Regions from separate parts of the Homo sapiens genome. Here region 2 is linked to region 1. The links come from fine-mapping of genetic effects on gene expression. A gene starts in region 1. The other region holds a variant in brackets. All regions are shown on one strand. Distances are between the middles of the regions.

Region 1 (16,443 bases):
ATCTAAATTTGACACCTGATGTAAACACATTTAGTGGCAGAAGTCTGATATACTTAGCCCATTTCATTTCTGGACAGCCTTAGTGGGGTGTGTGTGCGCGTGTGTCTTCTTTCATGCTAAGTTAAATCTGCCTTCCTATTCCATCTACTCATTGACCTGGAACCTCTGCTAGAGATATCCAGCATACTCATTCTATCCATAAGAAAACTATCATATTCTGCAGTCACCCCTTCTCATCTCCTGTAACTGTTCTTTACAGAGAAAAGTTTTCAAACTCCACCATTCTAAGTTTCCCCTCTCAGGACATAATCTAACTTCGTAGGGTTCTTCCTAAAGAAGAGGGAGAAACATCCCAGTAATGCTATTTCGGATCTAGACAGTGAAATGTATGGTGTAATGGAGCTCATATTCCAAAAGACAAATGCCATTATTACTGAATATAAGCCATTGTGGCACTCTCTGTACAAATCCTGTGGCAGAGGTTTCTCATTCAACATCCATTCAACAAATATTTATTAAGCATCTACAGAGTACCATGTCAGGTAAATTCCTGAAAACAGAAAATCATTCATCTTGTTCTTCATATGAATCACATAAAAAACTAGCCAAATCTTAACATTAAAAGCCTACAGAATTTTGTGAAATATGTATATAAGTGCAATCTAATTATAAGTAGAAATATCTAGTACATAACTAAAATTTTATTTGTTTTTGCTAAATATTAACATACAAAAAGTTTTCTTTGGTCAATCAAGCATGGGTTCCCAATTAGCCAATGAAGATCTACCAGCAGAATATCAAGTTTTATCTAGTAGGACTGATTTCAAGGGATGCTGTCTTTCCCTCCTCAGTGCGCCAGATTGGCAGCAAGGGAGGAAACATAAAGGTGATGACTAGCCATTAGGTAGTCCCACTCCTTAACTCTGCAGTATTTATTTTCCTATTACCATATATGAATGTTTTCCTAGTTAGTATTTCAGTAGTCCATTATTCTATGTATCAAGTACATTGCACAGTCAGAATAATTCCTAAAGACAAACATAGCTTTTTTTTTTTTTTTGAGACAGAGTTTCACTCTTGTTGCCCAGGCTGGAGTGCAATGGCGCGATCTCGGCTCACTGCAACCTCCGCCTCCCAGGTTCAAGCAATTCTCCTGACTCAGACTCCCAGGTAGCTGGGGTTACAGGCACGCGTCACCACACCTAGCTCATTTTGTATTTTTAGTAGAGATGGAGTTTCTCCATGTTGGTCAGGCTGGTCTTGAACTCATGACCTCAGGTGATCCACCCGACATGGCCTCCCAAAGTGCTGGGATTACAGGTGTGAGCCACTGTGCCCAGACTTACAAACACAGTTAATAAGGAGTTTAACACAAAGTTCATGTTCAATATCCAATATCTACTTCAAGTATGTATCAAAAGACGAGAGTTCATTTTGACATTTTAACAGTGGGGGAGGCCCCTTTATAACTACAGTTTTAATTTATTCACCTGGAAAAATTAACTCTCAAGATGACAAAAATAATTTTCCTTCCAGTTACCACTGAATATATATCTATAAGCTTACCCCCACTACCATCCCAGCCCACAGTTCTAACACATACCTGGTCTGTTAATTCGGTCAATTTTATCCATACTAGGGGAGGGGAGCCGAAGTCGAGGACTGCTTTGATTGGAGTTGTCTGATCCCACATCGTTGAATGAATCATCGAGAGTCAGCAGGAGTTCTTTTACACATTTATGACAGATACTATGTTGGCAAGGGAGAATCAATGGGTGGGTAAACAGCTCCTTGCATGCTGGGCAAATGAGCTCCCTTTCGATATTCTTAATGGTAACCTTGAGAGTAAAATAGTCCAAGTTAAAGGCTCTTAGTGGGTAAATATATTAACATTCTTATACCTCCTGAATAAGTACATGTGTTTATTTTTCCAAAAAGAATTAAGAAAATGATTTTCTAAATTTTAAATTTCTTTTCCCCAATAAAATTTGATACCATCAACTGCCCTCAACACCCATAACCCAGAACTGAAGGAACATGAGATAGTAAAAGGCAAAAATGAAGAGAAAAATTATGTAAAATATTAGGGGACCATGATATTTTATCAAAAATTATAAAGCCATCATTCGAATCTCCATCACCAGTGCACTGATTTAGGACTTCGGTGAAATCCTAAAAGTAGATCATGTCAATAAAAATTTTGAATACAGCACTAAGAGTAAGACTATATTCTTATTTAGTGAATTAACACTGTGACTGACAAATAACAGGAGCTATTAAACACTAGCTGAGTCAGTATGTTCATGGAAACCTAGTTGGTATCTATTTACAAGCTGAATTATCAGCAATTTTCTACATTAAATGCGACCATTCTTCATTAATGCCTGAGGTTCTCATGCTGTATATCAAAGCAATTATCTTAAAAGCACTTTATGAGTATGTATTAGTCCATTTTCACACTGCTATAAAGAAAATTACCTGAGGCTGGGTAATTTATAAAGAAAAGAGATTTAAGTGACTCACAGTTCCACATGGCTAGGGAGTCCTCAAGAAACTTACAATCATGGCAGAAGGGGAAGCAGATCTGTGTTACGTGGTGGCAGGTGAGAGAGAGCAAGAGCAGGGATACTGCCTTACAAAACCATCAGATCTTATGAGAATTCGCTATCACAAGAACAGCATGGGGAAAATCTACCCCTGTGATTCAATGGCCTCCCACCAGGTCTCTCCCTCAACACCTTGGGATTACAATTCAAGATAAGATTTGAACCTAACCATATCATTGTGGCCCTGGCCCCTCCCAAATCTCATGTCCTCACATTTCAAAACCAATCATGCTTCCAAACAGTCCCCCAAAGTCTTAACTCATTTCAGCATTAGCTCAAAAGTCCAAGTCCAAAGTCTCATCTGAGACAAAGCAAGTCCCTTCTGCCTAGGGGCCTGGAGAATCAAAAGCAAGTTAGTTACTTCCAGGATACAATGGGTGTACAGGCATTGGACAAATGCTCCCATTCCAAATGGGAAAAATTGGCCAAAACAAAGGGGCTACAGGTCCCATGAAAGTCTGAAACCCAAAAGGACAGTTATTAAGTCATAAAGCTCACAAGTGAGATCTCCTTTGACTCAATGTCTCTCATTCAGGGTACGCTGATCCAAAGGGTGGACTGCCATGGCCTTGGGCAGTTCCACCCCTGTGGCTTTGCAGGGTACAGCCCACACACCACCTGCTTTCATGGCTGGCATTGAGTATCTGCAGGTTTCCCAGGCGCATGATGAAAGCTGTTGGTGGATCTACCATTCTGGGGTCTGGAGGACCATGGTCCTCTTCTCAGAGCTCCCCTAGGGAGTGCCCCAGTGGGGACTCTGTGTGGCGGCTTATATCTCACATTTCCCCTTTGCACTGCCCTAGCAGAGGTTCTCCATGAGAGCTTCGCCCCTGCAGCAGACTTCTGCCTGGATATCCAGGTGTTTCTGTACATCCTCTGAAATCTAGGCAGAGGTTTCCAAACCTCAACTCTTGACTTTTGTGCACTGGTAGGCCCAACACCATGTGTAAGCCACCAAGGCTTGCACCCTCTGAGGCAATGGTCTGAACTGTACCTTGGCCCCTTTTAGCCACAACTGGTACTGGAACAGCTGGGACACAGGGCACCAAGTCCCAGTGATGGCAGCTGCAGCCCATCTGGAGCAGCTGCTGCAAAGATGCTGGCTGCAGTTGGGAAGGCACAGCCGGACCTGCTTGCTCTGCAGAGCCAGCGGGACCCAGGAACAGGCAGGAGCCCTTCTCCCTTCCGAGTTGGTGCGGAGGGAGCCCCATGCTCCTGGGTGCAATTGCAGCCACCCAGCTGTGGACTAGGGCATTCCTATGCTCTCGGGGGCCCAGGATGCCTCTCTTCCCCCACATGCTCAGAAGTGCCTGCTCCTACTGCTTGGCCTCTCCCCATTCCCAGTGCCCACTCTGACTTTGGAGAAAAGCTGTGGCCAAGCCCGGGCACTGACATGACCTGGCCAGGTGTGTGTGTGCTTGAGGAGATGCTGACACACCAGCCCCCTGCCACCTCAGCTCCCTCTGGACTTTGGGCGCTGATGAACGTGGGAGGGAGGCCAAGGGCAGGGCTGAGGGTGACTCAACGTGGTACTGCAGGCGTCCCTCAGCTAAAACAGTCTGGGCACCATGAACAGCAGTGGGAGGGAGACAGGCTCCTGGGAGGAAAGGGACAGGTCCCTGCTGAAACCCCACCTTCAAGCCAGGGATAGCCTGAAGCCTAGGGTCCAGGCTGCCAGTTCCACTGACTGGAGTGAAAACTTACAGTGAATTTTCCAGGCCCACCCATGGCCACCCATGGGCCAATCAGCACACACTTCCTCCCCTCTGAAGCCCATAAAAACCGCAAACTCAGCCAGACTCTGGCAGATGATAGGACGACCTGCCTGCAGGTAAGAGCTACCCACTTGGGTCTCCTCTCCACTGAGGACTGCACACTCGACAAAATGACCTGCCTGCAGAGAGGAGGTACCCACTCCGGGTCTCTTCTCTGCTGAGAGCTGCAGTTGTCGGGAGGAACTGCCTGCAGAAAGCAGCTACCCATGACAGGTCTCCTGAGAGCTACTCTTTTGCTCAATAAAGCACCTTGTTCACCCTCCAGTTGTCCATGTAGCTCATTCTTCCTGGACACAGTACAGGAACTCTGGACCTGCCAAATGGCAGGACCAAACAAGCTGTAACACAAACTGTGTCAAATACACCCTGCTGCTCGCCATGTTGTGGGTGACGATGAGGAGACAAGAGAGGAGAGAAGAGCTGCAGCCCTTCAGGGAGCCTGGACTTAGGAGCTCCCCAAGCCAGGGCTGTGACATCCTCTTTGTGGCTCTGCAGTTGCCGGCATCTCCAAGTTTCTGGGTGCCACCATGTTCCACAGTGCTTGTAGTGGGAGCCACTTGTGGTACACCTGTTCCAGCCACAGCAAGGAGCCGGCGCCCATACTGGCACCTGGACCTGCCTGCCCCGCCACAGCCACCATGCCTGGCTGTGCACACTGTACCCCGCGCTCGCTCACTCATGCACCCCTTGCTGCTCTGCACCTGGCTTGCCGTTGGCAGCCGTGGGATCTGGGCCAGTAGTGAAAACCAAGCACAGCCTGCTGGGTCAAGTGGGCAGAACAAGCCCAGTGGGCCTGAGCAAAACTTGGGCAAAGGCAACACTTGCCACAGAGGTTTCTGGCTGGTGAAGCGACACCCTAAGGATCCTGTGATACCGAGGCTGCACACAGCAGCAGGGCCCTGGGCCCACTCCACTAAAACATTTTTCTCTCCTAGGCCTCCAGGCCTGTGATGGGGCTCTCTTCATTAATGCACCTGTTTGGCCCTGCCAAACGGAGGGACTGCTGCCAAGATCTCTGACATGTCCTGGAGACATTTTACCCATAGTCTTGGCAATTAACATTTGAGTCTTTTTTACTTAAGCAAATTTCTGCAGCTAGCTTGAATCCCTCCCCAGAAAATAGGTTTTTCCTTTCTACTCCATGGTAAGGCTGCAAATTTTCCAAACTTTTACGCTCCGCTTCATCTCTCTCAAGTTCAAAGCTTCACAAATCTCTAGGACAGGGGCAAAACACTGCCAGTCTCTTTGCTAAAGCATAGCAAGAGTCACCTTCACTCCAGTTTCCGACAAGTTCCTCATCTCCATCTGAGACCACCTTGGCCTGCACTTCTTTGTCCATACCACTAGCAGAATTTTGGTCAAAACCATTCAACAAGTCTCTAGGAAGTTCCAAACTTTCCCACATCTTCCTGTCTTCTTCTGAGCCCTCCAAACTGTTCCAATCTCTGCCTGTTATTCAGTTCCAAAGTCACTTCCACATTGTTGGGTATCTTTACAGCAGTGCCCACTACCTTGGTACCAATTCTCTGTGTTAGTCCCTTTTCACAGTGTTATAAAGAAATACCCAAGAGTGGCTAATTTATAAAGAAAAGAGATTTAATTGACTCACAGTTCTGCATGGCTGGAGAGGCCTCAGGAAACTTACAAATATGGCAGGAAGGGAAGCAAGCACGTTTTACATGGCAGCAGGCGAGAGGGAGTAAGAACAGAGAATACTGCCTTATAAAACCATCAGATATTGGGAGAATTCACTATCACGAAAACAGCATGGGGGAAACCACTCCCACGATCCAATCACCTCCCACCAGGTCTCTCCCTCAACACCTGGGGATTACAATTCAAGATGAGATTTGGGTGTGGACACAAAGCCTAACCATAACAGAATATTAAAAGAATGTAGGGGACCCTTTAAAAAGGTGTATAAGCACCACTACAACTGCTCTCAATACTACAGCCTTTCATTATTTTAAGTGAGAAGCATTTTAGACTCATCACAACTAAAAAAGTTTGATGACCTCATACCAGTTTCCCCATCATTTCTCTACGTAGTTTTTTCCATGTATCCCAGACTTCATATCTATGAATCCTATAGTCAGCATCCCTGCAATTTTAAAGACAGCCCAACTTCAAAGTACTTATAACCTTGTACAATCATTTCAGCTACTAGAAATACACAGAAAATTAAAATTGACTTAACTAAATGTAATGAAATTTTAAAATGTATGCTAACCTATTCTCCCTAAAGTGACACCAAGTGCTTCAATAATCTCTGACAATTTAACTGCATTAGAGCCAACTGGTTTTATCATTGTCAGTGGGTGTTTCGATGCAGTCTCTTGCTGCATCACTCAAATATGTGATGAAGAGCCATATCACCTCCCAACTGTTCACAGATTTGGAAATAAGATAACTAAACCTCACAATTCACATCAAAGAATACAGAATATTCACATCCTATCTCATTTCACAAAGGGTTTGGCACCTAATTCAAAAGAAAATCTTGTCCGGGATATCCAAAATAGGTTCTTACATTCCATTTTATGTATAAATATGGTCAGTTCAGGTTTACTTGTCACTGGGGGAGGATCTAAAATCATTTCCATTTTCTTGTACATAAAGCAGTGTCTTGAATCTGACTTTTTAATCACAATGGACATAAAGTATTTCTTACCCAAGAGAAAATTTAGTTCATCTGTCATTGAGGGAGAAACAAACTGATTAAGTGTGATGTGGCGGCTCCCTCAATTAAGCAGTTCCTCGAGAAACTTCGGAAGAATTGCACATTCGACACCTTTAAACAAAAACACTTGTAGGCTGACAGCTGCCGGGGCCCCGGCCCGCCCCCCGCGGGCAGGCGAAGCCGGGGAGGAGCCTCTGGCCCAGGCGGCGGCAGCCGGCCGGGCCCGCGGGGGTCAAGACGCCTAGACAAAGGGCGGCCCCGCAAGCGCGAGGGACGCGCCCCAGCTTTCTGCCCGCACCCGACTCCCAAACGCTAATTAATTCTACAGCCTGAGCTCCATTAGAGAGACCCTCCATGATTCCCCCGAGGTGCTCAGGTGGGCAACCATCGGATTTGCGCTCTTCTCCGGCCCAGGGGACCCCACGTCCGGCTCTCGGGGATAGAAAGGGGACGCCCCGGATTGCGGAACCTAGCCCCGGGCGGGAGAAGGCGAAGAGGAAGCGGGATCCCCACACGCCTGCCTTTGCTCTCCCGGGAGGAGGCTCCCTCCGGGCTCCCGGCGGAGGAAAGAGAAAGAGCCGCGGTCGGCACACCGCCCTCGAGGTGGGGGCGGCGGTCCCCTCCGCACTCACCGGCGAATCTGAGCCATCGCCCTCCATGGCTGCCTTCTGCCAGGTGTCATCAGCGGCACGTTCCACTCACACCGGCTACCGAGCGCAGGGTCTGGTGGGCGGGTCCCTGCGGCGGCCGTGGAGCCTCGGTCCGAAGCTGGAAGATGAGCTGGTCAGCTGTACGTGGCCAGCGGACCGACGCGGGGAGAAGTAAGCCGGGGCAGGCAAAAGCACAGGCGCGGGAGAAGCGAGCTTTGCTCCCAGCGACTACCCCGGGAATCCCGCCCAGCTGCCGGCTGCAGCAGCGGCTCCTGCGGACTGCGGCTGGGAACGGCGCCGCGCAGAGACCTGGGCGGGGCACCGCGGGGCGTGGACAGGGCGTGGCCTGGTCGTTGCCCAGGCAACAGCGCCAGTCGCACAAAAGAGGCGGGGCCGCCTGGGGCTGGTAGGCCGGGTGTCTGAGTGGTAGGCTGAGCGGGACTCGGCTGGGCGTGGGTGTGGCACGCGGTTGGGACTCGGCGCCCTCCGCCGCCACCTTCCCCCTACGCATCAGCCCCTCCCTCCCACCCGGGTAGTCGCCCGTCGCCCTATGCCAGGCTGGGGGGCTCTGAGGAACGGAAGTGAGGGCAGCGGGGAGCGGTGGGCGGGTGCCGAGGGCGGCGCCGGGGCGGGGAGGCTCCGCTGCAGCAGAGCAGCCGGCTGCAGCCCTGGCCCCTGGCCCCTGGCCCTGCGCTGCCATTCCGCCCTTCAGTTTGCTCTCACTGCGCTTTCTTCACTCGCGGTTCGAAGCCCCGCTTCCAGGCTCGGCACAGGACGGTGCGGGCGAGGGCGAGCCTAAGCCACCTTCCCTGAATGGCCGCGGCGAGCACGGCAGAGCTGCGCGAGGCGACCAGAGTGAGACCCCGCCCGCCCTCTCCGCGGTCCCTAGCCAGGCGCGGCCTGGGGTTCCCTGGCCCCGCCCGGCTTGTCCCAGTTCTCTTCTGGCTTCACTTGCTGGGTGAACTTAATAGTCCCTGACTGGGCACCGAGCAGTCATATCCCGCTTTCTGCTTCTATACCCCCAAGTCGCGATGTCACCGCACGTTCTTGCCCAGTAGCGCGGGGACCGCCTGCAGGGTGGAGATTCCTCTCCCGGATGCTGGCCAGGGACTGAAGTTAAAAGGCCGCGGCAAGGGAGAGACCCCCCGCCACCCGGGCCTACGCTTTCCTTCCTGAGGGCCAGGACAGAGGGTCCTGAGCGGCTCCGGCACCCCCGCACCCCCGCGGGGAGTGCTGCTGAACGTTAAGGCGCGCGCCAGCTCAAGGACTGGCGGCGCACATTTCACCTGCCACGGCCCAAGTGTGTTTCTGGTGTTGTTTTCAGGACACACGGAGAACAAATTAATTTAGGATTATTAGATCACGCACTGCCTTTCTGGCTAGCTAAACAATTCATTCCTATGTATTAGGCTTTAAGAACAGATGCCCTAAATTGCTGGGTAAGTAGGGACTACAGAGCTGTAGCGAGACATCTCGTTTAGGTTTTAAAATGCTTCCCACTTTTATTTCCTGTTTGGGAGAAGTCTGTCGCTGTGGCAAGTTCCGTCGTCTTCCCACAGCCCTGTCTGCAGCGGTAGCCTCGTCTCCAATCCGGCATCTAAATAAGGAGTGTAGAATTAAAAACACTGAGGGACTATAGCAATTTTCTCTAATGGAATACCCTCCATTTACAGATGAGGTGAACAGAGGACGAAAGCTTTGCCAGGTAATAATGCCTGGGCTGTTCTGATCCGGATTAATGCCCGTTGCGTGGCCGCAGGTGCTAGACTTGGGAAGGCTTCCTTCCCACAGGTTCTGAAAAGTGCTAATCAGGAGGAGACTAACAAATGCCTGCGTGAATTAGGTGCCTATATATATATACATATATTTAAAGGCTCAACCATTAGAAAGCATTATAAGTCTTTCTCATACTGGCCTTTGAGCTAAATAATTCCCCTTGGGCTGTAATTTCACATCCGCACACCTGCTTTGATCCAAAACTTATTAGTTGACACAGTAAAAGTGATTAGAAGGCTCCATTAACAGGAATTAAAGATAAAATCTGTATAGACAATATTTTGGTGAAAATACATTGCTATGGCCTTCCATTTTGCAAATCAGACTTCACTGAGCTATCATTTTCTACCTGATCCACAAAATTCAAACATGATGTTAATATACTTGGCAAGTGTTAATACACTTGGCAAAACTGTGTCTCCAAAAAAATAAAAATACTTATGCAGTGGGCACAACCTTACCATTATCACCCCAGCACAGGTTTTAGTTGTGTGAGCAACTATCTATTCATCCTTCTGAAACAGATCATTTGGTGGTATTTTTGTTTTGGTCCCATGAGATGTTTAAGACCTTATATTAGTCTAGATTTGAGGACTTTCTAAGCCTAATTCTTTCAGAGTATAAGTGTCTTCTTGTTTTAATTTTGTGTTTGTAAAAATTTTTGAATATTTTTGTGCCTCAAATATGTTCAAAGTTTAATAATTCACCAAGTAATGGTATCATTGCCTATTTCTCTATCAAAAATACAAGATTTACAAAGCCTCTCTTATTTTGCTCAAACCTTTTTGTGATATCGTATGTTGGTACAGCTTATCTCAAGGGACATTTTACAAATCCTATCAAAAATTTTAAATATTTTTACCTTTTGACTAAGCAATTCCACATCTAAGAATGTTCCTACTGTAATACTTGCATGTGTGCACAAAAACATGTACAAAGAGCTTATTGAGACCTTATTTATAACTAAACATCATGCATAATATACATTCATACCATGGAATACTATGCAGCAGTTAAAATCAATGTACTGATGAGAAAGGATTTCTAAAATATAATGTGTGCAGTGGCCCACACCTGTAATCCCAGCGCTTTGGGAGGCCGAGGCAGGTGGATCACCTGAGGTCGGGAATTCGAGACCAGCCTGGCCAACATGGTGAAACCCCCCCTTTACTAAAAATACAAAAATTAGCCTGGCGTGGTGGCACACGCCTGTAATCCCAGCTACTCAGGAGGCTGAGGCAGGAGAATCACTTGAAACCGGGAGGCAGAGGTTGCAGTGAGCCAAGATCGTGCCACTGCACTCCAGCCTTGGCGACAGAGCGAGACTCTGTCTCAAAAAAAAAAAAAAGTACAAAACCATAAGGATTCTGAATGCTGCCACTCTGGCCAAAAAACTAGGTATATCTGATTACAGGCAAACAAAAATAAGCATCTGGAATAGAGCACAAAATATGATAACCATTGTGGAGAAGTAAGGGATGGAGTTAGGTATACAAGATTTAACTCTTCACTCACATTGTATTATCTTTCCATCTTATATGTACATGTTATAGTTCTAAAACTTTTTAAGGTTAAAAATCCTTTCTATCCATAAACTTTTAAAAACAAAAGGTGAGGGGAAGAAGACAAATACGAAAACTGCCATTTTAAACCACTGCTTTCCCAGTTCCCTGATCATTTCTGTCTCCCTGGGCTGCCGTGCTTTGTGTCAAGTCATCAACTTCTCTGTTTCAGCATCGAAATATCCCAGCCTCCCAGGATACCAAGACCCTTCCCAGTTCCTCAAGTTAAAATCCTGGTGGGTTTTGTTTGCTTGCTTTTTATCTTCCTTTCTTCTTCCCTGTCTATCTCTGATCAGCCTTAAATCATAGTTTGTTACCAGATTCTGTTCTTTCTCATCCTCACAGCTGATTCCTGTGCCCACTCTAAGCCCCCTCTCCGCATGCCTAGATTACAACAGTAGCCTATAAGTTGAGTATTTACAGATGATTTTCCATATGTGTAGCCCTGTCCTCATGCCTCTATTTGCACAAGGAGCAGAATAAGCTACAGTCCTGGACCACAGGCAGCTTGGTATTGGAACATAAGGGGGTGGGGGGTGTGTGGACATGTGTATTTGAATGTGTGTGTGTGTGTGTGTGTGCGCGCACGCATGTGTTGAAGAGCAGGAGTTAGAGGGTGGTAAACCTGTGGTAACAAAATAAGTCTGGTAAAGTATGGAAGGCCTCTATGCTTTTGTAGATGTTGAGCAGCTTTTGAAGGCTTTTTAGCAGGAATGGCATGAAATATCTGAACTTTAAAAAAATCATTATTCCCCTATTTTACATTGTATATGCTGTCCCTTGGTGCCTATTCCTCCGCAGTTTGGAGTATCCTAGCACCTCCTTTTTCAATAGTTTATTTTAAAATCTGGGTTAAAATGCAAAACAAGAAAACCTATCCTATTCTTATCCCCCTAAGTCCACAGACCTTCAATACTCTTGCCTTCATTGTGATATCTACTTTTCTACTTCTGGTATTACTTAATTGCTCTTCTATCACAGGGGCATGAGCTCTCTCACATCCATCTACTTCATGAAGTCCAAAAGGTCAAGATTCCCCTCTCCAAACACACACAATTCAGGCTTTGATAAAACAGAGCCTCAATCAATGTTCATTGCTTGATATTTAAAATATAAACCCCTTACCCTATAAATCATATACTACTCCATAAGCTGACTTGGTCTTTTTCCATATTGATTCCTAATACCCAACAAGAGATTAAATTCATGGCTGGGTCAAGTCCTAATGACCATGGTGCATATTAATTGGTTTGCTCTGAGATCAGACAGGCAGGGTACCACCATTCTATTGGTATATACTAAACAAGAAATAGAAACAAGGTAATATGGCCACATATTCCCTAAACTCTGCCCCCTTTTGGGAACCCCTAATAATTAAGCAGCCATAGGTATAAAATCAAGAGAGCACCTGGACTTACAGAAAATAAAAAGTACAGAAATAAAGTAAATTACAGGGTTTTCCAGTAGATTGGCACACGGACCACCTATACTGCTGGGTATCAGGAGGTTACCAGTAAAGGGATAATGAATGGTATTGTCTATCAATTATTGACTCAAGCTACTGACAGGCCAAGCTTACCAGTCATAAAGTGTTTCTATGGGAACAAAGTCAGGGGAGAGGAGTCCAGAGAGCCAGCAAGTTCAGATTTCCACTACCTGGCCAAATCCTCCTCATCTTTCAAGTTGCACTTCTGGAGCCTCCTTTATTAGTTTTGATTTCATTGATTATCTCCCTCTATTCTGAATTCTTTTAGCACTCAGTTTAACACAAATACCTAGTCTTTGTACACTGATGTTTGATGTTTTGTCTTCTCGACCATTTAAGCTTTTATTTAAGACAAAATCTAGTAAGCATTTATCTACTAAACAGTAGCACCAGAGCAACAATTTGCTATTAGGAAGATGAGAGGAACCCAGTGCTGCTCTCACGGACATTTTTCCATTAATGATGAGTGTATTAGCTGCATAACTAGTGGGCAAAGAAGTTTTCTGGCCAACTTGAGGTAAACAAAACTGGTAATATTTTGAGGCAATCTAGCAGGTCCCTCTCTGTTGACCACATCTTATTATTCTTCCCTGTAGGGTTACTAGATTTAGTAAATAAGAACACAATACACCCAGTTAAATTGGAATTTCAGATACATGATAATTTTTTAGTATATGTTCCAAATATCACATTGCACATATTCTAAAAAAAAAAAAAGTATTTATCTCAAATTCAAATTCAAGTCTACATCCTGTATTTTATCTGTCAGCCCTACCTCCACTTCTTAATGATCACAATGTGGATATAAGGTGTCTCAAGGCCCAACCCTGTTGTCATAAAAGCTAGAAGTAATAGCTTTCATTTATTGAGGGCCTATGATGTGTCGATAACAGTATTAGGAAACCTGCATAAAAGATTCATTTAACCCTTGCAGTAACCCTGTGAAATAGGTATAATTCTTTTCAGAGAAGACATGTAACAACTAAAATTCCTCTCCACCTCCGCCCATAGATTAAGTAATATGCTTAATCTATGGGCTATATACTACATGGCCATATACTAAAAAGCCAGGATTCAAACCTGGGTCTCAGTCCAGCATCCTTATTGCACTGCCCACAGGTGAGTATACAACACAGAATTTACAATTTCACTAAAAATCTGATTTAAACATCCTTTTACAAAGTAGTTTAGGAGACACCTTTTTTTTTCAAATTATCTTTAGCGCAATATAGTAAAAAAAAATAAGAGGAAAATTATATTTATGAAAGTAGCTCTTTTCAAATGATATTACAAAAATCTAAATCTTCTGCCTGCCTTCCCTACTCCCCACAGCACATACATTTCACCCAATTTCAATACATATATTTAAAAAACCTTTAAAAAATACTTTGTAGGCCGGATGCGGTGGCTCACCCCTGTAATCCCAGCACTTTGGGAGGCTAAGGCAGGTAGATCACTTGAGGTCAGGAGTTCGAGACCAGCCTGGCCAACATGGCGAAACCCTGTCTCTACTAATAATACAAAAAATTAGCCGGGCATGGTGGCGTGTGCCTGTAGTCCCAGCTACTAGGGAGGCTGAGGTAGGAGAATCGCTTGAACCCAGAAGTGAAGGTTGCAGTGAGCCTGAGATTGCACCACTGCACGCCAGCCTGGGCAACAGAGTAAAACTGTGTCTCAAAAAAAAATAAAAATAAAAATAAAAATACTTATGCAGTGGGCACAACCTTACCATTATCACCCCAGTTTAGATTTTAGTTGTGTGAGCAACTATCTATTCGTCCTTCTGAAAGAGATCATTTGGTGGTATTTTTGTTTTGGTCCCAGGAGATGTTTAAGACCTTTTATTAGTCTAGATTTGAGGACTTTCCAAGACTAATTCTTTCAGAGTGTAAGTGTCTTCTTTTTTTAAGGTAAAGTTTGTGTTTGTAAAAATTCTTGAATTTTTTGTGCCTCAAAGATGTTCAAAGTTAAAATAATTCACCAAGTAATGGTATCATTGCCTATTTCAGTATCAAAATTAAATATAAGATTTACAAAGCCTCTCTTATTTTGCTGAAACCATTATGCTCTTAGATGTGCCTGAACAGTAAATATTAAATTATGGGAACCGAATGTACCTTCTGGCTATTTACACATAAATGTAAATATGCTAAATACACAAAATACAAAGAGATATACTAAAATTTGAATTCTATATTCCTTGTCATCAAATCTTCATTATATGATTCCAGAAGCGGTGATAAAAAAATTAGTGAGGCAAATCTTACAAGAGACCAAAACAGTTGGAAAATACTGCTTTGAGTAACCTTAGATATTGACCACAGATTTGGAAACCTCTCTTTTAATCCAAAGAGATTAGCTGCAAAAGAAGCGAAAAGACAGCTTTCAGAAATGGTAAAAGTTTCACTGCTAGTGAAATGTAAGGAAATACATTTTCATTTTTAAGCCTCTTGAGAATGATCGTAAGTATTAACTACACTTATGCAGTATTGTTTGATGAGCAGAAAGGTCACAATGGCAGATATCACTGTGTACTTTAAATATTAAAGTAGCCATCACAATAGAGTAAATAAGCTGATCCAGTTTGTCCTGTAGGTTTTAGGTTACCCTAAGAAAAAAGGCTTACTTCCCACATTTCAGAGAACATACGGTATGCTAATTTAATTTGAAATAGACACACAAACTGCTGCCACTGGGGAAGGAATGAGATTGGAGGTGGGCATGAACTTAGACTTTTTACTCTGTGAACCTTTCTGTGAAGTTTGAATACTTTACAACAAGCATATATTCCAGGTATTAAGTTTGTAAAAATGTAAAGCTATGTATTTTTAATTATGTACAGAGCTTGAGAAGTCCAGTACAAGGATGAAACAAATCTGGGGGAAAAGTGAGAGAAATTAAGAGGATGGTTAACTCAGTGGTCTCAACTTTGAGGGATGGTGGGGCGGAGGGCAGGCCAACTACAGGCCTCTACTCTCTTAACTCTCATAATTAGACCAGTTTCCCATTATTCTTTACATTACAAACCCGAACTACAAAGTGGAACCGAACCCCACAGAGGAAAATAAAGCAAGTCAGTCTCAAAGGTCTGCTATTCCATGGTTAATATTCAGTGTTCAAATCCTGTATAATCACACACAAAACAGGGGTCTTAAATGGGCTAGTGCTGGGGCTGCGGGGCGGGGCAGGATTTGAGCCTGAGGAGAGTGGTAGGAAATAAGCTTACGTTGAAATGGTTAGGAGCCTACTCCAGACCAACTCTCCCCCTCCAACCCCCACAAAACAGAGAGAGGAATTGTCCTAAGTTCTTCTTGGGAGAGACTGCTTTCCAACCTCAGAGATTTCAAAGGGACAGCGGGCCTCTCCACCTTTAGAAGTCAACCGGGAATGCTCATGGGTTTGCTGCAGGCCCATTGCTGAAGCCTAGTGAAGAGAGAGACAGAGAGAGAGAGAGCAGAGAAATCCAGTAAATGAAGCCAGAAAGTTAGTTTGTGTTTTTTCATTATAGTGAGCATACTGTGATGAACCCATTGGTATTCTGAGAGGGTTTTGTTTTTGTTTACCTGACTTGATTATAAGGAGTTTTAATGGTTCTGCCCTACTTCCCCATTTCGTGTTCATAGGACATCCATCAGTCGGCTTCATGGTCACCTGGGCTGTTCTTCACATGCAAATCCCTGGGTCCTACCCCGAAATTATTCTCTCAGAATTTCAGGATTTGTCTGCTATTGAAGGAAAGCATAGCCAACTAATACAATTCTGGCTTACTTTGAAGAATATCTGAGCGCCATAGGACAAAATTCACCTATCGATCATCCTATTCTCCATCCTATCAAGAGTAGTCCATTTATTTTGTTCAACCAAAGGCATTCTTTTTCCTCCCTGCCCCCTAGCCCCTCAACGTTCCC
Region 2 (16,443 bases), 20 kb after region 1:
AGAATTCAACTAAGGTCTGTAGCATCCATAAATGGGTTCTTGCCTACTATTAGCAACACTTGATGGATTACCAGAAAGAGATATTGCTCTAAAAGTGAACATTTTTTCACACCCAGAATGGATTCTGGCACCTGATTAAAAACCACAGTGTTAGAGCTGAACAGCTAATCTTATGTCTGCATTACAAGCAGGAAGGAGGAAGGTAGAGACAAGAGCACACAAGACATTTGTTTCCCCTTAAAAAGCTTCCCCCAGCCCCATCCAGTGACCTCCACTTACACCTTTGTGAGAAATGGGTAATATGCATCCCCTAGCTCCAAGGAAGGCTGGGGAGGTGATTATTTTGTTCTGGGAACATTGCCACTCTAAACAAAATCAAGGATTTGTTAGTAAGGAAGAAGAGGAGACAGATATCGGGTAGAAAGTTGTTAGTTTCTATTAACCTTGAGTAAGTCCATTCAACTTTCAGAGCTTCAGTTTTCTCTTCTATAAAATGACTGGTGTTGACTAAATGGTCTCTAACCCCTTCCTGTTCTTAACCCTAAAATCTCTGATCTGAGGATCCCTTTGCCATCTGGCCGCATTAGCTGCCATTCTCCTCCCTGAAAAGATCGCTCTTAAAAAAGGGCTGTCCACCTGATCACTTGCTACTAGAAAATACTCCAGACAAAATATCCTTATCAGTTGCCTAGATTCCTACCCAAGACCAAGAAAGTGGTGGAGGCAAGAGTTTTAGAGAACATAAGTTGGGTCCTGAGCATTTATTTACACCAATGCCTGGTGGTATTTACCACTCTTTATTGTCGTTGTGTGAAGAACACTCTGGAGCATTAAAGACCTTTCAAAGAAGATAGGCATATAAAAATGAAGACCACATTGAAATTTCTTCTGAAATTCTATGCATGCACTCACTTCAAAGACACAGGGTCAAACTGTCAATAGGTACCAAATAAAAGTTGCTTTATTATGTCCCTTTCTTCTGAAAAAAAGATTAAAATCATATAAATTTAAAACTTCACTCCCTAAAAGAACCAAAATTAAGAAAAATGTTAATTCATATTTCTCTAAAAATAAGAATGAAATTAACATGACAGATGCTGCTTCACAGGGGACTTCCCCACCTAAGAGGAAGATATTTAATAGAGGGATTATATGATGTGTGAATTTTTCACACTGAGAAGACCAGCAATATTAAAGGGTCCCTTGCTGTGGAAAATCTGCTAATTGCCAACTTTCATCAAATGGAGAAAATTCTTCAACTGCTCTATTGCTATGCCAATTATTGAAATAAGTATTACATAGAGATTTACAACATTCTATTTTCTCCTTCTGATGGCAACCAGCATAATACATAATAGCTTGAACAAATAACATCAACAAAATACACAATCCAAGTTTTCTTTTTAATGGTGACACACAAATTGTATTTTTGAAGGTTTTGAATTTAAAATCTGTGAAGAATGTTCAGCTTTTTAAGAGTTAGAGACTGAAGAAACCTAAAATATCTTACTTTTAATAAACTCTCACATTTTCTTAGTTTTTATTTCAAAAATGTAAACCTAAAATTTGACTGATACCTGTATTCAAAAAGGTCATTTTAAAAAAAAAATCTTTTTTGAATAAGCTTTATTGAGGTACAATTTATATACCATAAAATTCACTAATTGTCAGTGTACTGCTTAGTTATTTTTATTAAATTATGGATTTGTAAAACCATCTCATAATCTGGTTTTACAATATTGGAATATTCATTTATTGAGATTTTCTTTAATTTTTCCAAGCAATGTTCTATCACTTTTAATGTTCAGATATTGTACTTATTGTATTACATATTGCAAGGTACTCCTTTTAATATTATTGTGAATAAAATTGATTTCTTGGTGTCATTTCTTGGATTGTTAATTACTGTTATATAGAAACACAACTGATTTTTGCATAAGGTTGTGTTTTACAATGGGGCAAAATTCACTTATCAATTCCAGATTTTATTTTCAGATTCCTTATAATATCATCTGTAATTAAAGACAATTTTATTTCTTCCTTTCCAATCTGTATGCCTTTATTTTTCTGCCTTATTACTCTGGTTAGAACCTCCAGTAGAACCTCCATTGAATGCATGCAGCAAGTGTGGGCATCCTTGCCTTATTCCCAATCTTGGGGAAAAAGCATTCATTCTTTCACCATTAAGTACTGATTGGTTTGGCTACATTCCATGACTTTTGATTTTTTTAAAATTAAGTTAGAAATATTTTTAAAATTTCCTATTGTGATTTTTTTGACCCATGGGTTATTTACAAATGTGTTAATTTCCAAATTATTTCAAATTTCCAAATAGTTTAGATTTTCTATTTTTCTGTGTGTTGATTTCTAATCCAATTCTGTTTTGAGCAAAGATCATCCTTTGAATGATTTTAATGTTTTTAAATATATTCAGGCTTTTTAATAGTCTAATGTGGAAGTCAGCAACTTTTTCTTAAAGGGTAAGATATTAATGAACATTTTAGACTTGAAGCCATATAATTTCTGTTACTACTTGGCTTAGTACGTGTTGCTACAAAAGATTAGCCTGGGACTGGATAATTTATAAGGAAAAGAGGTTTATTTGGTTCATGGTTCTGCAGACTTTACAGGAAGCATGGTGCCAGCATATGCTTCCAGTAAGGCTTCAAGAAGATTCCACTTATGGCAGAAGGTGAAGGGAAGCTGGCATGTCACATGGCAAGAGGGAGCAAGAAAGAAAGGAGGGGGGGGGTGTCATGCTCATTTTAACAATCCGTTCTCATGAGAACTAATAGAACAAGAACTTAACTCATTACCACGAGGACAGCACCAAGATACTCATGAAGGATCCACCTCCATTACCAGAATAGCTCCCACTGGACCCCACCTCCAACATTGGGGATCAAATTTTAACAGTAAATTTGGAGGGGACATATATCCAAACTATATCACTGCTCAACTCTGCTGTTACAGGATGAAAGGGACCATTGACAATAGGTCCACAAATAGGTACACAAATGAATGTGGACATGTTTCAATAAACATTTATTTATGAAAATAGGCAGCTGAATAAGCACATGAAAAGATGCTTGACGTTATTAGTCATTAGGAAAATGCAAATCAAAACCACAATAAGATACTACCTCATACTCACTAGAATGGCTAGAATCAAAAACAGAGAGAATAACAAGTATTAATGACAAAGTGGAGAAATTGGAATGCTCTTAGAATTCTTAGAACTTAGAATTACCATATGACTCAGCAATTCCACTCCTAGTTATATACCCAAACGACTTGATAACAGGGACTCAAACAGATACTGGTACACCAGGGCTCATTGCTACATTTTTCACAATAACCAAAAGGTAGAAACAACTCAAGTATCTGTCAATAGATGGATAAACAAAATATATATACATATAATGGAATTTTTTCAGCCATAACATGTAATGAACTTTTAACATTTGCTACAATATGGATGAACATTGAAAACATTATGCTAAGTGAAATAAGCCAGAAATAAAAGGATAAATATTATATAGTTTCACTTATATGAAATATCTAGAATAGACAAACTCATAGAGACAGAAAGTAGAGGGGCTGGAGAGAGTCTGGAATGGATTGTTTAATGGATAGAGTTTACATTGGGAGTGACGAAAAAGTTTTGGGTATAGATAGTGGTAATGATTGTACAACGTTTTGAATATAATTAATGTTACTCAGTTGAACACTTAAAAATGGTTTAAAAAAAACTAGGCAGCTGCCCCCTGGCCTGTAATTTACTAACCCATAGCCTAGAATATCACCTATTTTGGATGATATTCCATGTGTGCTTAAGAAGAGTGTATATTCTCCTGGTTATTGGATGAAGTATTCTACAAATGTCAGGTAAAGTTGATTATTTCTCTCTCTCTCTCTCTCTCTCTTTTTTTTTTTTTTTTTTTTTTTTTGGTGACAGGGTCTTGCTCTATTGCCCAGGTTGAGTGTGGTGGTGCAATAACAGCTTACTGCAACCTCCACTTCCTGGGCTCAAGCCATCCTCCCACCTCAGCTTCCTGAGTAGCTGGGACTACAGGTGCATGCCACTACATCCAGCTAGTTTTTCTTTCTTTTTTTTTTTTTTTTTTTTTTTGTAGACATAGGGGGTCTCACTATATTGCTTAGGCTGGTCTTGAACTCCTGGGCTCAAGCAATCCTCCAGCCTTGGCCTCCCAAAGTGCTGGGATCACAGGCATGAGCCTCCATGCCCAGCCTTAACAGTGTGTTTTCTCCAGAAATTTATTACACACAATCTTTGGCCTAAAGAGAGCAACAAAATTCCTTGGGATTGTTTGTGTCACAACAAAGGATCACTCCTTGTCTTAGAGTTGCTCAAATGGTAGAATTAGAACAGTGTGCACATATCCTAAAGCTATCCTCATTCTCAGGGGATGATATTTCTCTAGCAAGCAAGACTTTGCCCAGGAACAAGCCTAGGATGGCCAGCCCAGGCTATCACAGGAGCCAGTGGCCTCCTAAGACATGCTGTTGAGCACATGGCCTTCATGTCCCTCTGTGCCTGAATCTCAACTAGATCTACGGAATCGCAATGTGCCAATATTATTCATTCATTAAATAGTCCATTAAATATAAGTCACCACCTACTGTGTGCCTGGCAGTGTCTGGCAATGGAGATTCAGCAGTAAACAAAATAAACGAGACTTTTAAAATACAGATGTCCTTTTAATACCATGCTGTGTTTTGAAAGCTTTTATTTTGTATGGGGCTTTTTGATGCTACGGCAATATGATCTTGGTAGGTAGGGCAGAACCTTTATTTCCCTGCAGGGTACACAGTGAAATGATACACCATTTCTTTCCTAGGAAATGAGATATGTGGAGATCATCAGTTAGTTTGTCATTAGATATGGTAGAACCATATTGGATAACCAGTGTTCTCTTAACTAAGGTCCTGACTAGCTATTCACCCACTCCCTCCCCCCACTTCTCTCTCCATCAACCCCCACACTTTCACATTAGGTCAAAAATTCTTTGGGCGATGACAACTTCTATAGGTACAAGGAAAGTAGGGTTAAGAGAGAAATCTGCCTCTGATCAATACAGCTGCAGCATCATCATAAATAATTTAACCACTTACTCTGTTTTTAGTTTCTTTGATCTGCTTCTCTCATCTTGCCTGGTTGTGTTACTGCCACAAAAGTTTGCTCTTTGAGAGGATGAAGAACCTTCTAGTCATACCTCAGTCATCATCCTGGGGCAAAGGTCCACTTTGTATTACTCCTCCTGCCTCATGCCTCATAGCTAAGCATCAATGTTTTTTTACCATTCTGAAGGTTCCTGGGTGTTGCTTTGAAATGTTCTAAACCAGAAATAATGAGGTTTCTTATTAGGCTGACCCTAAGAGCTATCATCCTGTTGTTCTTTATTTATTTTAGAAGATTGCTTGTTATGTGGGTGTAGAGGGAGGCAAGCTAGAGAGAGGAAGAGGGATAATTTATAGGATCTCAGATTCAGTTCGAGTATTCCTTTTAGGGGCAGTGAGTGAGGAGATAGGGTATATTAGGAGGTAGTAATTAGTATAGTGTTGGCTACTGTCTGATGGACAAACATGTAGTTCATTGGCTCCAGCAAAATGATAAATCATATCGATTTTTCTATTTTGCCACTCACACATATTTTAAAAATCTTGTTGTGCCAGGGTTCCTCAATAAAAGGCACAGCTCTTATCTCCATTAAATTGAAATTTAAAATGTTAATAACACCAATATATGCTACCGACTTATTGATTAAACTGAGTATTTGGTAGAGCTTGAGCACTGTTGTTCTAGCTCTACCAAAAAGAGGAAAATATCTGGGAAGAAATTCACAGAATAGAAAAAAAGTGCTAAGAAAGGATTCTATACACATCACACCATAAAAATAACATTGACTTTGAGAAGCAGGAAGGACAAGTTCTTGGCAGAGAGGCTGGCATCTTTTCATCTGTCCCTAAATTACACACTGATCAGCCAATGCAAGGTGGGGAGCTATGATTTTTTTTTTTTTTTTTTTGAGATGGAGTCTCACTGTGTCACCTGGGCTGGAGTGCAGTGATGCGAACTCGGCTCACTGCAACCTCTGCCTCCCAGGTTCAAGCGATTCTCCTGCCTCAGCCTCCTGAGTAGCTGGGATCACAGGTGCATGCCACCACGCCTGGCTAATTTTTGTATTTTTACAAAAAATATATCTATTTCAGCATTTCACCAGCTTGCTAGGGGAGAACTTTGTGTTTCACAAGGCATTTGTTTACTCTTGAAAAGGAAAATTGTTGACATTTTCCTTCCAATATGCTTATCTTTAAAGATTTATAATATAAAATATTCTCTGTGTGATACATATTTATTTGAACTATTTGAATTTCCTATAATTCCAAAAGGAATTTTACCTTTCTTTTTCAGTATTCTATTAAGACAAATTTGGTTTACCCTTATGAAAAGAAACACTTTTTATTTAACTGTAAAAGTACTCATTGAGTAAGAGTAACAAGCTTTAAATAATTTGTTACATATTATCCCATTTTTTGGTTAATAATGAAACAAAAATGACTATCAAATATTAAGTGTTAATATCTAACACATATTTGAGTCCAAAAAGTGTTTACTCAATGAATAAATGAACAAATGAATAAATATACTTACTTTACAATGGGAGAAACTGAGGTCAAAAGAAAAGTATTAGCCACAATCTAGTATACTATAATCCAACTAAAAACTATCTAACTATCTAATTCAAGTATTGTTTTCCCTTGTTTTATTTAGAAGACAAATGAAAGCTTTAGTACTGAACATTTTGAAACAGAAACCCGAGAATAATGCCTTGCGGGGAGAAAAGCTTCAGATTAAAATTTCGGAATAAAAATAAGGAGAAAAATAATTTTACCCAAACACCACTTTGCCTTTCCTTTACTCGTAAATTCAAGAGTCTCAAATAACCATTTAAATACTGTGAAGTTAAAGAATTTTCTTAATTATAAATAAATTGTGCTTAAGGGAAACCTGGAAGCTTTAGTAAGTTTCTAATTTTTAAAATTATGTGCACCACCTTATTTATATTTTCTAAATGACTATTCCAAGTGGGAAATAAATACAGTAATACAGTTATGTCTTCACCTGCCAACCAACACCACAGTTATGGTCCAATGAACTGTATTTTATGGTATATAGGTTCAATATTCACTTTTCCTCCTTCTTTGTAACAGAACGTTGAGAAATGTGCCCAACTTAAAAAGAAAAGGAAAACTCCTTTTGCAGCTTGCTTTGCAGAAAGGGTTGACCAATGAGGTATCAATGGGAGTTTTTATGTCCAGCTTCTGGGAGAGCTCTTTTGCCCTCTCTTTCCTTTCCTTCTAACTGAAATACAGTTCTGATACGTGGCATCCAACCACCATCTTGGACTACTGAGGAGAACCTGAGGATAGAAGTCATTCACTAAAATGGCTGGAGAGGAAAGAGGGAAGAGCCTGAATCTAAGGATGGTGGAGCTTCCATTCCAACTGTTGACCACCTACCTTCTATCTTCATTTACTCCAGAGACAATTAAACTATAACTTGATTAATTGATTAAACCATGTTATTTGAGTTTTCTCTTACATACAACCAAGCCTAGTCACAACTAATATAGCCATGTTATAGCTGTGAGACTTTTAGCAACTCATTTCTCTATACCTCAGTTTACTCATCTGTAAAAATGGACCCAATAACAGTATTGACTCAGAGAGCTGTTATAAGGATTAAATGAGTTAATATATGTAAACAGCTTAGAATTGTAGCCAACACAGACTAAAGACTCAATGAATCCTCTATTGTTACTATTCACTTGTACCACCTATAATATAATACCTGCAGAATAAATGAGAAAAGGAGTATGAAGAGGAGAAATAACATTTGTTTCCCACCGCCTTCTTCAGAGATGAAAGACCTGGGTAAAGAGCATAACAGAACATGTAACACATCATCCTTCTCAATTAAAAGCACTTTGCAGATTACAGGTCATTCTGTAAAGATACTCGAGTTGTTCTAATCCTTACCAGAGCTCTGAGATGAGGGTGAAAGTTGAAACTTGCTTAAGTCAACAGGTCATTTGCTTGCTGGCTCAAGAGCTGGAGCCCCAAGTTCACTGTTCCAATAAAGGCCAAGTTGGCTTGGTTCTAGTTCATGACCCTAGGCACGACAGTATACTTAGCTTTGGTTAATTGTCCTCTGAATAGGATTCTAAATTTAAATCGTGTGGGAGAAGACATGAGGAGGTCTGAGCCATGCTCCTGAGAAGCTCCAGGCATCTTCCTTCTCCTGCTGTGACTGGCTCCACCTGCCAGCAGGTGTGTGGGGGTTGTAACTAAGCCTTTTTGTTTTTTAAAGGGAAATTTCCTGAATTTTTTCAAGGAATCTATTTTTTCCTCCAGCTAATTTATTTAAAAGCCTTCTGAGCCTTTGGGTCTTAACTTTAGGATGACTCCCCAGTGAGCTCTGTTCACATCTTAATATAATAATGATAACAGCTAATATTTTTTAAGCTCTCATTATAGGTGAGGTACCATTTTAAGTGCTTACTCATATCATCCTACTTAATCCTCACAAAACTCCGCAAAGTACTATTGTATTTGCCTTTTACAGATAATCACCCTGAGGCACAAACAGTGGAGTGACCTACTTACTCAAAGTCACTAGGAGGGGTGGTGGCAGAGCCAGGTGAGACCCCATGGTCCTAGCCACCACCCAGTACTCTTGTCTCATATTTAAAAACTCTCCACTATCTGCCTTTACTTTTCAAGCCTCAACCACTCGGAAGGGCCTGGGCGTGTTTCTTTGCTCAGGTGCCTTTGATTGTGGTCATATTTGAATCTTGTTATTCTACATGCCAGTCTTCCATTACTCACAAAAGATAATAAAATCCCTTAGGTGATGTCTTCCACTGCATCAGCTACCCAGGTTGTTCTGTAACCTCGAACTCCTGGGCTCAAGCACCCCTCCTGCCTCAGCCTTCTCACTCGTGGGGTATCCTTTTTCTTCCCCAAGCATTGTAAACTTATCCCTAGACTCCACTTTTTAAATCCTCGTCTGGACACTAGGGCCTTTTCATTGTGTTAGGGAGACTCAGAAAAGGAAAATGTTATAAAAGACCAGTTTTCCCTGATGGCTAAACAATTAGTGGCATAATTTACCAAAGAATTGTAGCCTGTGAGACACAAGATGCTGAATACAGCCAAGCAAATACTTTCTCTACTCTTCTTAGCTTAGGAAAGTGGATATGAAAGGAAGGATGTTAACTGTCTCAGGCTATGTCATGGGCATTTGCCTTTGACAGAAGGACCTCCTAGGATGAGGGGAGGTGGTGCTGACAGCAAGCAGAAGGAGAAGAGGACCCAACAGCTGGCTGCTCTTCATCCCTCAGAGAATGGCATGGAAAGAGAGCAAATAATTTCAAAATACATGGAAAAACATTTAGATAGCACAGGCAATTTATTTGGAACCTCCATATCAGGAAATTGCTTCTCTAATGCAGTGACTTACTACTGAAAAGAAAAAAGTCTCTCATGTTTGCAAAATGGGCTTTGTACAGTGCCTCACACTGAGACCTAGAGATCTAATGAGAATGTGGATTATTAAATTTCTCACAGGGAGGAAAGGGGCCCAGGAAGTGTCTCCCAGATCTGGTTCACAGCCTAAGGAAAAAAATGCTTATGCCTTACTATCAAAGGGTAGAAGAAAATAGCATTAATCTCCATTGTCCTGATTAATCACTCCTAAAGGTATAAACAGAAAGTTCAGGTCGGTTACCACCCTCCTAGGAGTGCCAGCATATTTTACAGTCCACAAAATCCGGCGCAAATCTCCCTTCCCCATTCATACCTCAGAGACAGAAGAGTAAGCCAAGTTATTTGAACTATGATTTTGCTATTCGTATATATCAAAG[C/T]GCTTTCATGTTCTCACAAAACTTGAGTTCCCGAAAGTAAGATTGATGCCCTGCCAGGAAAATTGGCTTTAAAGTAGTCCCACTACTGCTATTGAGTAAACCTTTCAGAAGAGCCCTCAAGGCTTAAGAAATCAGACATAGCAGAGCCCCTACAGAACTAAAACACATTTCCCCCTAACCAGGATTCACCTGCACTTCAGGCTGGGACTTTTTTCCTAGGGCTCAATACTCACCTCCTGCCTGGCGAGGTATCTTTCCTCCCAAGCTCCCTCAACACCTTTTACACATCTGTCGTGATACATAACTTCTTGTACTGAAATTGTCTATTGATACATTTGTCTCTCCCCAATTACACCACACTGTCCTTGAGCAGCAAACAGAATCTTTTTCAGTTTTATTAGGTTGGTGCAAAAGTAATTGCAGTTTTGCACTGCAATTACTTTTGCACCAACTTAATAGCTTCCCAGTGCTTACAATACATAGTAGGTGCTAGTTAATATTTGTTGAATTTAATGGAATTGAATTCATCTGGCCAGTTTTCCTGCCCAGCCTGGAATGGCACTGGAACAAGTACCATACAAGGCTCCACACCCAGCTATGCTGCCATTCTGGTGACCTTTACTAAGCCCTTCCCTATGGCAGATATCATTACTATATAACCCAGGAATCATAAAAGTTGCCACCTGGATCAGTAGAAACAATAAAAACATATATCCCTGTCTATAAAGTGCCCTAAGCTCTTCAGAGGAGAGAACGATGGGTTTGGTTCAAGGTTTCTATAAAGAAGATGGTATATTAGCCAGCACAGTAGAATCCCACAAATACGACAGGACTTTACTACATGGTGTATACTTTTTTTAAAAAAATAAGCTTTTTAATTTAGAAAAGTTTTAGATTTACAGAAAAATTGCAAATATAGTACAGAGTTCCCAACTATTCTGCACCCGTTTCCCCTTTCATTGACATCTTACATTAGCATGGTAAATTTGCCACAATTAATGAGCCAATACTGATGCATTATTATTAACTATATTCAGATTTCCTTAGGTTTTACCTGGTGTCCTTTTTCTTTCCAGGATCCCATCCAGGATACTACGTTACAAATAATTCTCCTATCTCTTCTTGGCGGTGACACTTTCTCAGACTTTCCTTGTTCTTGATGACTGTGACAGTTTTAAGGAGTACTGGTCAGGTATTTTGTAGGATGCCCCTCTTTTTTCTTTTTTGAGGTGGAGTTTTGCTCTTGTTGCCCAGGCTGGAGTGCAATGGCGCGATCTCGGCTCACTGCAACCTCCGCCTCCCGGGATCAAGCGATTATCCTGCCTCAGCATCCTGAGTAGCTGGGATTACAGGCATGTGCCACCACGCCTGGTTAATTTTTTTGTATTTTTAGTAGAGATGGGGTTTCTTCATGTTGGTCAGGCTGGTCTCGAACCCCCGACCTCAGGTGATCTGCCTGCCTCGGCCTCCCAAAGTGCTGGGATTACAGGCATGAGCCATCGTGCCCGGCCAAGAACATGATTTTTAAAGTTGACATATACCAGCTAGGAATTAGAAAGAACTTCTTAGTATCTAAAAAAAAAAAAAGACTGACCAATATCTACATTTTTGGTGGGTAAAAAGCACTGAACAACAATTTACTAGACAGTGTTCATATCAGAAGATGTTTTCTTCCATAACTTATTTTGACATGGTTTAGTTCCTCATTGCTATCACTTTATTATATAAACTGACCATTAAAATACATTAAATCTTGAAAAGATGGACCTTGATTTTATATCTGGTCTGAGTGATAAGAAATGGATTTATATGCTCTCTGGCATTTTGTGAAACTGGCCACAAATCAGAGGACTACAAACAATTATTTTGAAATGACTTACAAATATTATATACATTATCATTTTTAAGAGGAAGTAATTTTCCAGCAGAAATGGCCAACAAGATTACCTGATTTCTCCAATAAGCATGAATTGCATACATATCATGTACTGTGTTTACCTCCTAGAAATTAAAAAATGGGTAAATCAAAGATACTGACACCAAGAGCTCAGAGACTGCTTGGGAAAATAGAGAATAAACAGAATTATGGTACAATGTGGTAAGTACCATAATAAAGGCACATAGTCAGAACTAGGAAGCAAGAGGAAGGAAGGCTTTATAATAGGCTGGTCGCTCCCTCTGCCTAGATCTGCTGGGGCAGGTGAAGCTTGGCTTTTAAATTGAGAGTTGAACGATAAATAAGAGTTCAAAAGGGCAGGTAAAGAGAATTAATTCTAGGCTAAGAACCACCTGTGCAAAGGCACTAGGGTAGCGAGTACAGTGCCTTCAGGTGTTAGATACTTTACTATCATTGGGTCGGAAAGAGGCAGTTACCAAAGATGAGGCTGGAAAAATAGGTAGGGAGTAGATCTCCAAGGCCTTTTAAAGCATGCCACGGAGGTAGACATTACCTGTAGACCAACACTTCTTAAATTTTAATGCTCATATGACTCATTTGGGGACCTTGTTAAAATATAGATGCTAGCTGGGCACAGTCGCTTGCACCTGTAGTCCCAGCTACTCAGGAGGCTGAGGCAGGAGGAGTGCTTGAGCCCAGGAGTTCAAGGCTGTATTACACTATGATCATGCCTGTGAATAGCCACTGCACTCCAGCCTGGGCAGCATAGATAGGTCTCAGGTGGGGCCTGAGCGTCAGCTTTTCTAAAATGCCCCAGATGATGTCCTGCTACAATAAAGTTGGTCTACAGACCATGTGTTAAGTAGCAAATATTTACAAATTACAAATTCTATTACCTGGAATGAATTCTATATACTAAGACATACCTTCAGCCCTTGAAAGGAACTGGGACACGATTCAACTAGAGCTTCCAGGATGGTGAATTCTGCCTATAAGTTGCCTCCTGGGTTTACTGCGGGTGCCCTACAAATGCAATAATTTTTTTCGACATGTTCTATGATGTGAAGACAGTGGGGAAGCAATGTAGCACAAATAATCCAGTCAGTACTATAAGAACCACAATTTGGTTTTTTCGGCTGCGGGGAGAGGAGTGCAAACAGTCCCAGTTACCCAAAGCAGCTGATATTCATTGTCAGCATGGCCCAGAGCCTTTTTCCCCCAGTAGTAATCATTTGGAGATTGAAATCTTGGCTCCAGTTCACCTCTGCAGTGGGACTTAATTCATGCCAGACTGTGGTGGTTTCTGCAGCAGTCCAACTCTGCCAAGGCTCAAAGTCCAAAGATTCTGTCATGCAGTGGCAACAAAGGAGGAGTAGAATTAAAACATAAAACTCTTGTTCTATGACCTTTCAGTTATTATTGCTTAATTATTTTTATGAGATTATAAGTCATTTTGCCAAGTCACTCCTTAGCCCTTTTTGAAACTGTGACAATGATTACTAATTTGGTCACTTTTCCTAACAACCTATAATAGATATTTGGAATAGGAAAATGTGAGACTGTATGAAATGAAAGAAATGTGAATTTCTGTGGAGTCAGTTGGCCTTTAGGTTAACGTTGTATATAAGTATGTGTGTAGGAACATAGTCACACATATGAGATTGTACCTGCAGGTCAATTTCTAGAAAAGAAACTGCTCACAGGTGTTGCCTCTGGAGAGAAGTGGGGAATGGGAGAAGGGTCAGCTCTGCGAGATCTTTTGGGCAATAGTACTTCTTCTATTCTGTTTTAAATTTTTTTCTAATATGATGGCTTAACTTAAAAAATACCAAAGAAAGAACTGTCTCAATGACTGAAAAGTATGATAATACTTGCAGGTTTGGGTAATATAATACCTTTCCTCTGGGTCATCTAGTATTGAAACTCTTTTTGTACTGTGTTTAAGGAGAAAAGATTAATGCCTTTAGGTCCCCTGAAGTTTAAGCCCAGTTTAAGCTAAATTACCTAAAGTTTGTTAGTAAGGAAACCAATTTTTGAAATAAAAAAATTCCCCGTAAGAATTTTTTTCAGTTGTTTTCTCAGTTGATGATTTTTGCCCCCTCTTCAGACAACAGTGAAACATAAAATGAGATGCAGCATTACAAAACGAAAAGAACTGGAGGGAAAAACATTTGCTTTTGATGCAGTCAAGCATCTTCATTGATGCCCTTCTGTCCACTTTCTCTCTCCCCCAACTATAATATCATAGAATGCTGAAGGAAAGCACATTCCAGATACATGTTGTGTAGACTAGCAACATTTAATGGATAACTTCCATTATGCTATTACAAATTTACAAGCATAGAAGAAGCATTATCTTCCACAAATACTATGAGTATTAAACACTCAACAGTCATAACCCAGTTTGCAATCTCCTATGACTTACATAAAATTTCATCTTAATAAATTGCAGTGAAAATAGATGGCACACGGGAGGTAGGACTAAATTGCAGCTCCGACTCAGAGCAGCATGCAGAGGCTCTCATCATGAATTTTGCTCCAGAACGACTGCGAGAACAAACCAGAAATCCAGAGAGGACCCACAGAACATCTGAAGAAAGTGGACTGCTCCTGCAGGACCCAGGAGACACCCAAATACTGTGCTGGAATCTATGGCTGAGAGACTTATAGACGGTTCACATCGCAGGACTCTGTGAAGACAACCTGAAGTACCAGCCTGGAGCCGGGTAGACTTGCTGCATGGCTAGACTCAGAAGAGAGATAACAATCACTGCAGCTCAGCTCACAGGAAGCTGCATCCATAGGAAAAGGGGAAGAGTACTACATCAAGGGAACACCCCATGGGACAAAAGAATCTGAACAGCCTTCAGTTCTAGACTTTCCCTCTGACAGAGCCTATCAAAATTAGAAGGAACTAGAAAACCAATTCTGGTAATATGGCAAAACAAGGCTTTTTAATATCCCCCAAAAATCACACTAGCTCATCAGCAATGGCTCCAAACCAAAAATTTACCTGAAAAGGAATTCAGGAGCTTAGTTATTAAGCTAATCAGGGAGTCATCAGAGAAAGGCAAAGCCCAATGCAAGGAAATCCAAAAAACGATGCAAGAAGTGAAGGAAGAAATGTTCAAGGATATACTTAGCATAAAGAAAAATGTAATAAAAACTTTAGGAAACATTGGACACACATAAAAATGCAAAATGCTCTAAAAAGTCTCAGCAATAGAATTGAAAAAGTAGAAGAAAGAAATTCGGAGTTTGAAGACAAGATCTTAGAATTAACCCAATCCAACAAAGACAAAGAAGAAAAGAATAAGAAAATATGAACAAGGCTCCCAAGAAGTCTGGGATTATGTTAAATGACTAAACCTAAGAATAATTGGTGTTCCTGACGAAGAAGAGAAATCTAAAAGTTGGGAAAACATATTTGGGGGAATAATTGAGGAAAACTTCCCCAGCCTTGCTAGAGACCTAGACATCCAAATACAAGCAGCACAAAGAAGACCTGGGAAATTCATTGCAAAAGATCATTGCCTAGGCATATTGTCATCAAGTTATCTAAAGTTAAGATGAAGGAAAGAATCTTAAGAGCTGTGAGACAAAAGTACCAGGTAACCTACAAAGGAAAACCTATCAGATTAATAACAGATTTCTCAGCAGAAACCCTGCAAGCTAGAAGGGATTGGGGCCCTATCTTCAGCCTCCTCGAACAAAACAATTATCAGCCAAGAATTTTTTATCCAGCGAAACTAAACTAAACATCATATATGATGGAAAGATACAGTCTTTTTCAGACAAACAAATGCTGAGAGAATTTGCCACTACCAAGCCACCACTAAAAGAACTGCAAAAAGGAGCTCTAAATCTTGAAACAAATCCTGGAAACACATCAAAACAGAACCTCTTTAAAGCATAAGTCACACAGGACTTATAAAACAAAAATACAATTTAAAAAGCAAAAACAAATAACAAAAAACACAAAGGTACACAGGCAACAAAGAGCAAGATGAATTCAATGGTACCTCACATCCAAAGTTGTTTGAAAAGACTTAAAAGCAGTGCTTCCTGAAACTCATTTTTCTGCTTATATACTATAATCCTCCCATTTAGAAATTACTTTTTAAGGTTTCATCTATAAGGAAGGTAGGGATAAAATATAAACGTTTGGCTGGTCATGGTAGCTCATGTCTGTAATCCAAGCACTTTGGGAAGATGAGGTGGGTGAATCGCTTGAGCCCAGGAGTTTGAGACCAGCCTGGGCAACATGGCAAAACCCTGTCTCCACAAAAAATACAAAAAATTAGCCAGAGTTGTGGCATGTGCCTGTGGTCCCAGCTCAAGAAGCTGAGGTGAGAAGATCGCTTGACCCTCAGAGGTCAAAGTTGAAGTGAGATGAGATTGCACCACTGCACTCCAGCCTGGGCAACAGAGCAAGACCCTGTCTCAATCAATCAATAAACGTTTTCAATATAACTAACACTGAACCAACCCCACTTCGTAATTGTTTTCAATAAAAACATCTTCCTTCTCCAGTATTGAACATAGTAGTCTAGTTAGCTAGGCCTGAAGCAGACAGTCTAGAGCTGCTGGTCTTTA

What was found.
Region 2: its variant is fine-mapped to the expression of TRIM36 in lung (TOPMed, PIP above 0.99).

The regions. Positions count from the first base shown.
Region 1 is chr5:115,161,915-115,178,357 of GRCh38, forward strand. It overlaps TRIM36 (tripartite motif containing 36), which reads right to left and starts at 7,994. Exons shown (of 10, transcript NM_001300759.2): 1 at 7,694-7,994; 2 at 1,604-1,838. The coding sequence starts at 7,720. RefSeq lists silencers at 7,170-7,259, 7,990-8,409.
Region 2 is chr5:115,181,745-115,198,187 of GRCh38, forward strand. No RefSeq gene overlaps it. Among named protein-coding and RNA genes, the nearest start is that of TRIM36, 20 kb to the left of the region's middle. The variant C/T (reference allele first, on the strand shown) is at 9,951.